Linked DNA regions of Homo sapiens. The protein of the gene in region 1 purifies or fractionates together with the protein of each later gene. This does not show direct contact. Each region holds a gene or a part of one and is shown in the gene's direction. Other genes may lie near its edges.

What was found. The genes of interacting proteins can lie anywhere in the genome.
Region 2: the proteins of TSPAN1 (region 1) and ALG14 purify together in Homo sapiens (affinity purification with mass spectrometry; one large-scale study listed by BioGRID and IntAct). This does not show direct contact.

What each region holds. Positions count from the first base shown.
Region 1 is NC_000001.11:46,177,681-46,182,561, forward strand, and holds part of TSPAN1 (tetraspanin-1), read left to right. Parts: exon of another isoform or gene 1-141; intron 142-1,745; exon of another isoform or gene 1,746-2,252; intron 2,253-2,845; 5' UTR 2,846-2,978; intron 2,979-3,419; 5' UTR 3,420-3,427; coding exon 3,428-3,484; intron 3,485-4,881. UniProt on the Homo sapiens protein: Structural component of specialized membrane microdomains known as tetraspanin-enriched microdomains (TERMs), which act as platforms for receptor clustering and signaling.
Region 2 is NC_000001.11:94,978,488-94,983,368, reverse strand, and holds part of ALG14 (UDP-N-acetylglucosamine transferase subunit ALG14), read left to right. Parts: intron 1-62; coding exon 63-293; 3' UTR 294-4,881. UniProt on the Homo sapiens protein: Part of the UDP-N-acetylglucosamine transferase complex that operates in the biosynthetic pathway of dolichol-linked oligosaccharides, the glycan precursors employed in protein asparagine (N)-glycosylation.

The sequences.
Region 1 (4,881 bases):
AACAGACCTCAGCTGGAAATACGTGTGTTGGACGGCTGAAATTTTTTGCCTTTCTGCTCATGTCCATGAATGACTGCAAAAGTACCACAAGTACTGGTTTGGGAATTACAAATAAATTTCAGTAAGCAGGCAAATTCACAGGTATGGAATCTGTGAATAAGGAGGATCCACTGTATAAGGAAACTGGGGCTCAGTGAGGTGAAGTCACACAATTAGAGGCAGGCAGGAAGCAAATCCATGATGATCAAGATCCAAAACCCAGAGCACTTAACTCTCATTATTCTGCACTCATTCACTCAGGAAATGTTCACTGACAACTTCTTATGTGCCAAGCACCAGGGCCATAGATGAATGTAATCTGGTCCCAATTCTTCCTGAGAATGAAACAGAAAGGTTCCAGGTGCGGTGGCTCACGCCTGTAATCCCAGCACTTTGGGAGCCCGAGGTGGGTGGATGACTTGAGGTCAGGAGCTCGAGAGCAGCCTGGTCAACATGGTGAAACCCTGTCTCTACTAAAAATACAAAAATTAGCTGGGTGTGGTGGTGTGCACCTATAATACCAGCTACTCAGGAGGCTGAGGCAGGAGAATCGCTTGAAACTGGGAGGCGGAGGTTGCAGTGAGCCAAGATTGCGCCACTGCATTCCAGCCTGGGCAACAGAGTGAGATTCTGTCAAAAAAAAAAAAAATAGACCTTCTCCTTCTCCTTCCACTCCTCAGTCCCTTCTTCCTTTCCCCCTTACTCTGCTCCTCAAATGCCCCCTTCCCAACTTCATCCTCCTTTCTGTTTGTGGAGGACTCTGTGGCACCCTTAGTACCACCCTCACAAACCTCATCTTTCCCCCATCCCCTCCTCCAGCCTCTACTCTTGCCATCCTCAGTCTTAAAATATGACCTTGCTTCCACCAACTTCTAGCAACTGTAACTATAAACCGACCTGCCCCTGCTCCTCCTCTTCCTCAGGTCAGACCAAGGCCTCTTCCCTTGCTCTTTATGGAAGCCAGCCTTGTCTGCCTCTTTAGAGATTCCATCAGTGTAGACAGTCTGCTTGGTGGTTAAGATGTAGACTCTGGTGCCAGACTAACTGGGATTGAATCCTGGCTCTGCCACTTACAGGCTTTGTGATCATGGCAAGTACCTGACCCTTTGGTGCTTCTATTTCCCCATATTTAAAAATGGAGATCAGAAAGTCTATCTCATGGGATGGTTGTGAAGAGGAAAAAAAGCCTTAATATATGCAAGACATTTAAAATAAGATCAGTATTATTAGTGTAGTCTGTAATACTATTAGCCCCTCTCTCTTCTGTCTCTTCAGCTGCCTCCTTTCACTATAAAAACAAAACAAACTTAGAAATCCACTTCCTCAGCTAGGCACAGTGGCTGATGCCTGTAATCCCATCACTTTGGGAGGCTGAGGCAGAGGATTACTTGAGCCCAGTTCAAGACCAGCCTGGATAGCATAGCAAGACCTCATCTGTTTAAAAAAAAAAAATTTGCTTGAGTGCCGGCAAATACCTGTGGTCCCAGCTACTTGGGAGGCTGAGGATCATTTGAGCTCAGGAGGTCAAGGCTGCAGTGAGCTGTGATGTTGCCACTACACTCCAACCTGGGCAACAGAGCAAGACCCTGTCTCAGAAAAAAAAAAAAAAAAATCAACTTCCTCCATCTCATAGCCCCACTGCCTGTGACTCTCTCGACTTTGACCTTCTTGCTCTGTGCTCATTCCCTACTGTCCCTTCCTTCTAGAGCAGGAAGAAAATCTCATTTGAAAAGCCCAGAACTATTCTGTTACACAGAAGACCAGGAAAGAGAAGTTTAAAACCAAGTCTAAGAAAAGTCCCCAGGGTCACACAGTTCATAAGCGACAGAGCCAGGATTCCAGCACCTGGTCTGAATGACCCAGAAGCCAGGACTTTTCCCCCGCACCTCTACATCAGGCGTGCTGGAGCAGGAAGCGGTCAGGCAGCCCCACTAGGAGTAACAAAGATGGGATCACAGAGCCTTGGAACTGGGGGTGGCTCCTTCATGAGACCATGGTGCCACCTACTGGCAGAAAGAGAAGGGGTGTACACAGAGCGCTAAGAGAAGACTGGGAAGGAGAAAAAGAAAAAGATGGGGAAGGAGAGGAGATGGAAAGATGAAGGGAGGGGAAAAATGGGGAATGTGAGGTTTCATGGAGGGAAGAGGATTAGGAACTATTTGCTACTCGCAGGAGAGAGCGGAAGCTGCCAAATCTCAGTCATTTCCTTGAAAGTGAGTGAGAGACAGAGAAAGAGAAAGAGGGAGTGTGTGTGTGTGTGTGTGTGTGTTTGTGTGTGTGTGTGAGTGAAAGAGATACTTAAGTACGTACATCAGATATTATTCTGTTGTTTGTTAGTTGCTGGGAGTCAGTCCACAAAGAATTTAGTGTGCGTGTGTGCGCACGGACGCACACACACACATGCATTCAGGAACACTAGCACATGTTTATGTATGTAACTGGGTGCTTGCTGTATGAACATATGGATGGCAGCATGAGCAGATGCATGTGCATGTGAGCATGAGCACAGAGGGTATGTATGAGTGTATCAGCAGATGCAGGGTAAGAAGCACATTACACTGTTGTGGTGGAGGGCACGCAGACATTCTGGGAAGCCACTTGCCCCACCCCTGGGCTGCTTCTTCTTGAGATCAGGAGGGGCGTTGCCCAGGGCTGGTGTTGCCAGGTGGAGGCCTGCTGAGGCAGTGGTTGTGGGGATCGGTCTCCAGGCAGCAGGGGGCAGCAGGGTCAAGGAGAGGCTAACTGGCCACGGGTGGGGCCAGCAGGCGGGCAGAAGGAGGCTTTAAAGCGCCTACCCTGCCTGCAGGTGAGCAGTGGTGTGTGAGAGCCAGGCGTCCCTCTGCCTGCCCACTCAGTGGCAACACCCGGGAGCTGTTTTGTCCTTTGTGGAGCCTCAGCAGTTCCCTCTTTCAGAACTCACTGCCAAGAGCCCTGAACAGGTAATGGGATAGGGATACAGATTATCCTGTGAAGTGATATCGATCTGGAAACAGGTCTGGGGAGCTGGAGGGGCTCTAGTGAGGGTTCTGGGAGGGTCTGGGGTTAGTGTGGGGGGGAGCACAGGATATACAGGTGCTAGGAAAGAGCATGGAGTGACCTGCAGTGTGGGAGTCAGGCTGGGTGTGCAGGTGGAGGAACCTGGGGTGTTAGGATCTCAGAGTGTCAGGTGCTGGTGGAGGTCCTGGGTAGTATAGAGGGGTAAGGGTGTTAGGATAGAAACTGGGAAAAGGTCTGTGTCAGACCAGGTACAGGAGAAGCTTGGTGAGATATGGGTTCAGGATCCTGGGGTCTGGCATATCTGGCTGAATATCTGAAGCCAGGGCCAGCCCAGGTGGGCCCAGGGGAAACAAGGCCCTAACTTGCACATGTCTACCTCCCAGGAGCCACCATGCAGTGCTTCAGCTTCATTAAGACCATGATGATCCTCTTCAATTTGCTCATCTTTGTAAGTACGGACATTGTGGACTCTTTGGGGCTCCCTATAGGAGCAGGTCACAAGCTGAGTAGAGACTAAGCTGGGGAATGGGAGACTGCTATGCCCAGGCTTCGTCCTGCATGTGTCCCCTTATGAGTGGGATGCAAAGGTCTCCCCAAATGCTGCTGATTCCTAGTCCCAGCAGCAGCCAGGCTGCCATACAGGTGCGTGTGTGAAAAAGGGGATGGAGAAGCTAGGGGCACCCCCTCTCTCCTACAAAGCTTTAGCCTAGGCTTCAGGCAGGGCAGAGTAAGCTACCAGGAATGATTCTCCACCCTTTATAGGCACTGGGGGCCCAGAAAATAGAAGGGCTCCACCCAAGTTTACCTACCACAGAAGGAAATTCAGTACAGAGGAAATTCTTCTGTATGACGGGGAGCTGAAAGGAGGGAGGGCCTACCTCTCATCAGAGCAACAGTCCTTATTCATTCGACAAACATTCATTGTCTAGGATACCATGATGGGTGCTGGGGTGGCAGGTAAGCAAAGCCTTTCTCTGCCCTGAAGGATCTCAGCTCCGATAAGCCAGATAGGCAGATAATAACAACACAGTGTGTTTGGGCTTAGGACGGAGGTTATGGGAGCCTGAACTCAGCCTGGTTGGAGAATACTTCCTGGAGGAAATAGCTGAAGCTGGGAAATTGCACTTGGTGGGGGAGTTATAAAGCATGCATAAAGGGCCAGAAGTAGTGAAACTTGATATCGTTCAGAAAACCAGAAACAGATTGCATAGGGCATGTTTGAGAAGCTGAGCCATGAGGCGTAAATCCTGGAGATGGTGGTGGAGATAGGGAGAAACGGACAAAGTGGACAAAGGACAAAGCTCTAGGATGATGGCTGAGGGGTAGAAGAAGGGGCAAGGGAGACAGAGGTCTTGGAGATGACGCCCATATCTCTGGCATGAGCAACCCAGATGGCAGGGGGTGGGGCCTGGTTTGTGGGAAGGGGTGTCCCACTAGCAGATGTGTACCCAGTGGAGGTGCAGCTCAGATTGGAGCTGGCCATGGGTATTTGAAAATCATGTGCGCACAGGTAGCCACTGAAGCCATGGGAGTGGATGAGAACACTTGGAAAGTGAACTCTGGGAAACCCAATTTATTAGGGATAAGCAAAAAAAAAAAAAGCCACTGTGAAGGAGATGGAGAAGGAGCAGTGGGAGGGGGAGAGGAAAACAAGGAGAGTAGTACACTAACCACATTAGAGTAGGTTAGTGTAAGTGAAAGTGAGGAAGTGGGCCAGGTGCAGTAGCTCACAACTGTAATCCCAGCACTCTGGGAAGCTGAGGCGGGCAGATTAGTTGAGCTCAGGAGTTCGAGACCAGCCTGGCCAATATGGTGAAACCCCGTCTCTACTAAAAATACAAAAAT
Region 2 (4,881 bases), about 49 Mb from region 1:
CAAAATGCCTCCCTTAGATTATTATTCTGTATTTTCATTTGACCTTCAACTTTTTCTTTCAGGTGTTGTGTAACGGACCAGGAACATGTGTTCCTATCTGTGTATCTGCCCTTCTCCTTGGGATACTAGGAATAAAGAAAGTGATCATTGTCTACGTTGAAAGCATCTGCCGTGTAGAAACGTTATCCATGTCCGGAAAGATTCTGTTTCATCTCTCAGATTACTTCATTGTTCAGTGGCCGGCTCTGAAAGAAAAGTATCCCAAATCGGTGTACCTTGGGCGAATTGTTTGACAAATGGCAACTGACTTCTTTAGAATTTTGCAGTTAACAGTAGTATGTACTCAAATTGGGGGGAAAAAAACCCTACATGTTTCTTGTAAAGGCGTCTGACAGTCCTGAGAATTATTGATGGTAAGGAATAAAAAATGTACAGATGACTCAGTGAAGAAACTGAGGCTTCTCTTATGAAACAAACATTGATAAACGTAACTACTAAATGTTTATGCCTCTGTAAACCAAATTTCTTTTCTAGATAAAAATATGTATTACTACCTGCAAATTTTCTTCTGGCTGTTTTAGTAGTATTTTTTTTACAGAACTAAATATAGAGTTTGTATGATTAGTAATATTTCCTGTCCTACAGCTTTTTTTTTTTTTTTTTTTTTTTGTAAAGTATTCTGCATTGTAAAAGAAGAGAGAAAAAAAGTATTTCTGAGTTTTGGTTCAGATACAAAAGGCTTTATTTCCTGTATGGAAACAGTGATGTCCCCAGTGAATCCTTTCAGCATAAAGGAAGCAGTTATATTAAATTGGCTTCATGACAATTTGCACTCCACAAGCCTCCAGAACCTTGAGCATAAACCAGTATCATTTTTTGTACTTCAGTCTTGCTTTTTGAGTAGTTGGCCTTAATACAGAGTATCTTTTAAAATCTCTTGTTTAGGCCGGCATGACGGCTCACACCTGTAATCCCAGCACCTTGGGAGGCTAAGGCGGGTGGATCACTGGAGGTCAGGAGTTTGACACCAGCCTGACCAACATGGTGAAACCTTGTCTCTACTAAAAATACAAAAATTAGTCAGGCGTGGTGGCACATGCCTGTAATCCCAGCTACTCGGGAGGCTGAGGCAGGAGAATCGCTTGAACCCGGGAGGCAGAGGCTGCAGTGAGCCGAGATTGCACCATTGCACTCCATCCAGCCTGGGTGACAAGAGTGAAACTTCGTCTCAAAAAAAAAAAAAAAAAACAAAACTCAATGATGTAGGGACTGTTATTATTCCCATTTTACAGATGACTTGTCCAAGATCACATGAGTAGTAAGTAGCAAAGCCAGAATTCAAGTTCAGGTAAACCTGACTTCTTAGTGGGGCCAGTTTCACGGGTGTGTGGCCTGTGCAGTCACACAGAGTTCTGCACTGAAGAGGGCCTCCACTTGGTTTAATGTTCTGCTGTGACTCTCTTGAACTTCTGAATATTTTTTTAAACAATGAACTTATATTTTAGACCCTCTGAATTCTTTCGCTGGTCCTGCTTGAGACTGTGTTTCTAGTGGTGCCATGTCTACTGGAATAGAAGTACAATAGTTAGTGCAGTGCCTGGCCCAGGAGCTCCTCAAAAACAGGAATTCCATTTCCTTCCCTCTAACCTCTGCTTCTTTAACAAAGCAGCCAAAAAAAAAAAAAACAAAACAAAATAAAAAACAGAAAAGAGAAGATTCTCTCCTGTAGTATATATAGGTTTTTTCCTCTTAAATCTTTTGCTTTATAAGTATGATATAAATCTAATAAATAGTGATTAGTGAAGTGATTGAATTTTTGTGAAAAGAGACATGATTATCCACGATCATGTAAGATTAAAATCCTGAGGCTGATCCAGCCTTTTTTCTTTTTTTTTTTTTTAAAAAAAAAAAGCAAAAAAAACAAAAAAACTGTCTTCTCTGAATCATGTAACAGGCGCATCTGTCAGCCGGACATCTTCCTAGGTTTTTGGCTGGAGAAATGTGTAGCCGAAGGTGTCTCAGAATGGTGAGAACACTTTGCTGTCTGGATTTAGTGGGCCTGGGGCAGCCAAATGATAGTTCATTGTGCTTTGATTTTAATCCTCAAATCTCAGTCACTGGTTGCTTCCCTGGAGTATCAGAGCGTATTAGTATCATACAACCAGGGGCTGAGGTGAAATAAGCCTTGACTGTTCTAGAAAGAAAGTGATTTTTTCAGGGACAACAGCATCTGCATTTTATTGCTGTTTAAGGCTTTCTCTGCTCTGTACTTTGTTCCCTGAGTGGCACTAGGTAAATGAATGGTAAGGGAAAGTGAACTGCGTTTAGTGAATGCCTCTCTGTGCTGTGGGGCAGCTTCCCTGGGCCCCCACAGGTAATCCTGCTGCAGAGGCTTCTGTCAGGTCAGAGCTTAACAAAGATCAGACCAGAGAGAATTGTAGAAAAGATGCTATAATTTTTTCCAGAAACATATGTCCCAGATGTTTTGCAGAGCCTTAACTTAAGACAGTGGTTAGCCTGGAATGTCAGAGAAAGAATGTGTATGTGTTATATCACCAAAAGTTTAGAAATGTTATATCTTTCATAGGTTCAGGCTGCTGTGTACTCATTCAGAGCCAGGCTGAGACATGTGTTATTGCATCTTCCTGATCATTCAGATTACTCTGGTAAACAAGTGCATGCTCTGCTGTGTGTTACTGTTATGGCTAATTTGAGTCCTCAAGGTCCCATTAGCAGAGGGGGCTGGTGGCACAATTTCCCTGCTGTGCATTTCTGTGACATTCAGAAAGATAGTGCGCCAGTCCCAACTCAAACTGAAGAAGATGAGTAGCTAGCTTGTCCCTTCCAGTTTCTCTTAGAACACTCTGAATGCAACTTTTACTGTAGGAGACTGTTCATGAAAAAATTAATTGAATCAGTCTTCAAATGAGAGGCAGGGAAACCACACATCCTGCCCACACCTACTTCCCTGGAAGATTTCTATCTACAGTCCAGCTATCCTAAAAGGTCTCAGTAGCTTGCCAGGTCAGAATGTCTAACTGTTTCAAAAAGGATGCCCAAAAATCATGACAGGAAACTTTAGCCTGGAACGAAGAGTGCTATGAAACCGTGTCAACAAGAGGAGTGGTGACAATTGTGAGTTGAATAGCAAGATGTCCTTGCTAGGAAGGAGATGACCCAAGCTTCCCCTTATAAAAGCAACTTGGAACACATCATTCTACCTTTCAAAGATACATGGTAAGTTAAAATTGAGAAACGTACCCCTTTACTATACAGTTCCTTGGGTTGAATGAGTGCTTTTTTTTTTTTCTGAAAAGCCCCATCCCCCAAAAGGCATTTGATAGCAATGTATTAAGCACCTTTTACCAACAATAAGAACATCATTGTAAGTGTTAAAGAAAATTGTCCTTCTCCCTACAGGTCAGCGTTTGAGCCTCACGGGGTTTCTTCCCATGACTTCAGCCCTGGCGCACAATGAGCAGACACCCAAATCTTGTCCGCCTTCAACATTCTTTTGTTAGGGCCCATCCCTCTAGCACTCTAAAAACAAATCATCTACAACTGTGTTCCTGCTGCCCACTCATTTTAAACATGAATTTGACATAGCTCCTCCTTTTCGCACTGGAGTAGTTAACTAATGCTAGCCCACTAGCTTCTATCATGTCCCTCAAGCAACAAACTTTGGGATCATTTTTGCTTTTTCACTCTTTCTTTACCCAATTATAATTGGTTGCCTTTTTTGTTTCATTATCCCCAGAATTTTCTCGTCTTCCTCTTCTCTCCTTGAAATTACTTTTACTGTTCCTCTCCTTTGTCATCACCTATTGATTCTGCCTTTGACTTAGTTCATATCTACCCTTTCCTTTTCAGTCCCATAGTTACAACCTAAGCCAGCTCTTCAACAAAAATTTCTTGCTTGATGAGCAAGTTTTATTGAGGAACTGAGGAAACACCTGTGGAAGGAACAAATGAATGATTTTGTTAATTACTTATGTTTGTCTTCAGAGACTTCCCCTCATGCTAGTTCTGTATACTTGTTTCACTTTTTTCTTTCTTTTTTTTTTTTTTTTTTTTTTTTCGAGACAGTCTCGCTCCATCGCCCAGGCTGGAGTGCAGTGGTGCAATCTCACCTTACTGGCTCACTGTAACCTCTGCCTCCTGGCTTCAAGCGATTCTTGTGCCTCAGCCTCCCGAGTAGCTGGGATTACAGGCATGCACCACCACACCTGGCTAATTTTTGTATTTTTAGTAGAGACAGGGTTTTACCATGTTGGCCAGGCTGATCTTGAACTCCCAACCTCAGGTGATCCACCCATCTTGGCCTCCCAAAGTGCTGGAATTACAGGTGTAAGCCACACGTCCGGCCCTTGTTCCACTTTTTATAATATTTACACCACAGAGAGGTTAAGTAATTTATTAAAGATTATAGAACTAGAAAGTGACAAAGCTCAGATTTGAACCAAGGCATTCTAGCTCCAGCCAGGCTTACCTTAATAGCTACGTTAGGTGTTTTTTTTTTTTTTTAAAGAAAAAAGAAAAAATGTCCTCAAAAGGAAATAAATGGGGTAACAGGGTACTATGACGGAGTAGAAGGTAGTTGGTGTTCTAGATAGGGAAATCAGGAAAGGCCTTTCTAAGAAAGTGGTATTTTACCTGAGTTCCAAAGGATAATGCCTTAAATATTTGTCCTCCTTCTACTTCACTCCCAACTTAGATTTTGCCCCACCCACAAAGTCTTTGTCTTCATTTAGCTTGAGCAAATTCTCTAAATAACTCTGTGACATAGCCACCCATACCAAAGGTTAGTGCTGAGTTATATACCATCGAATTGCAGTCCTTGTTCTTAGAAACACCTGTGGAAGGAATAATGAATGCTATTGC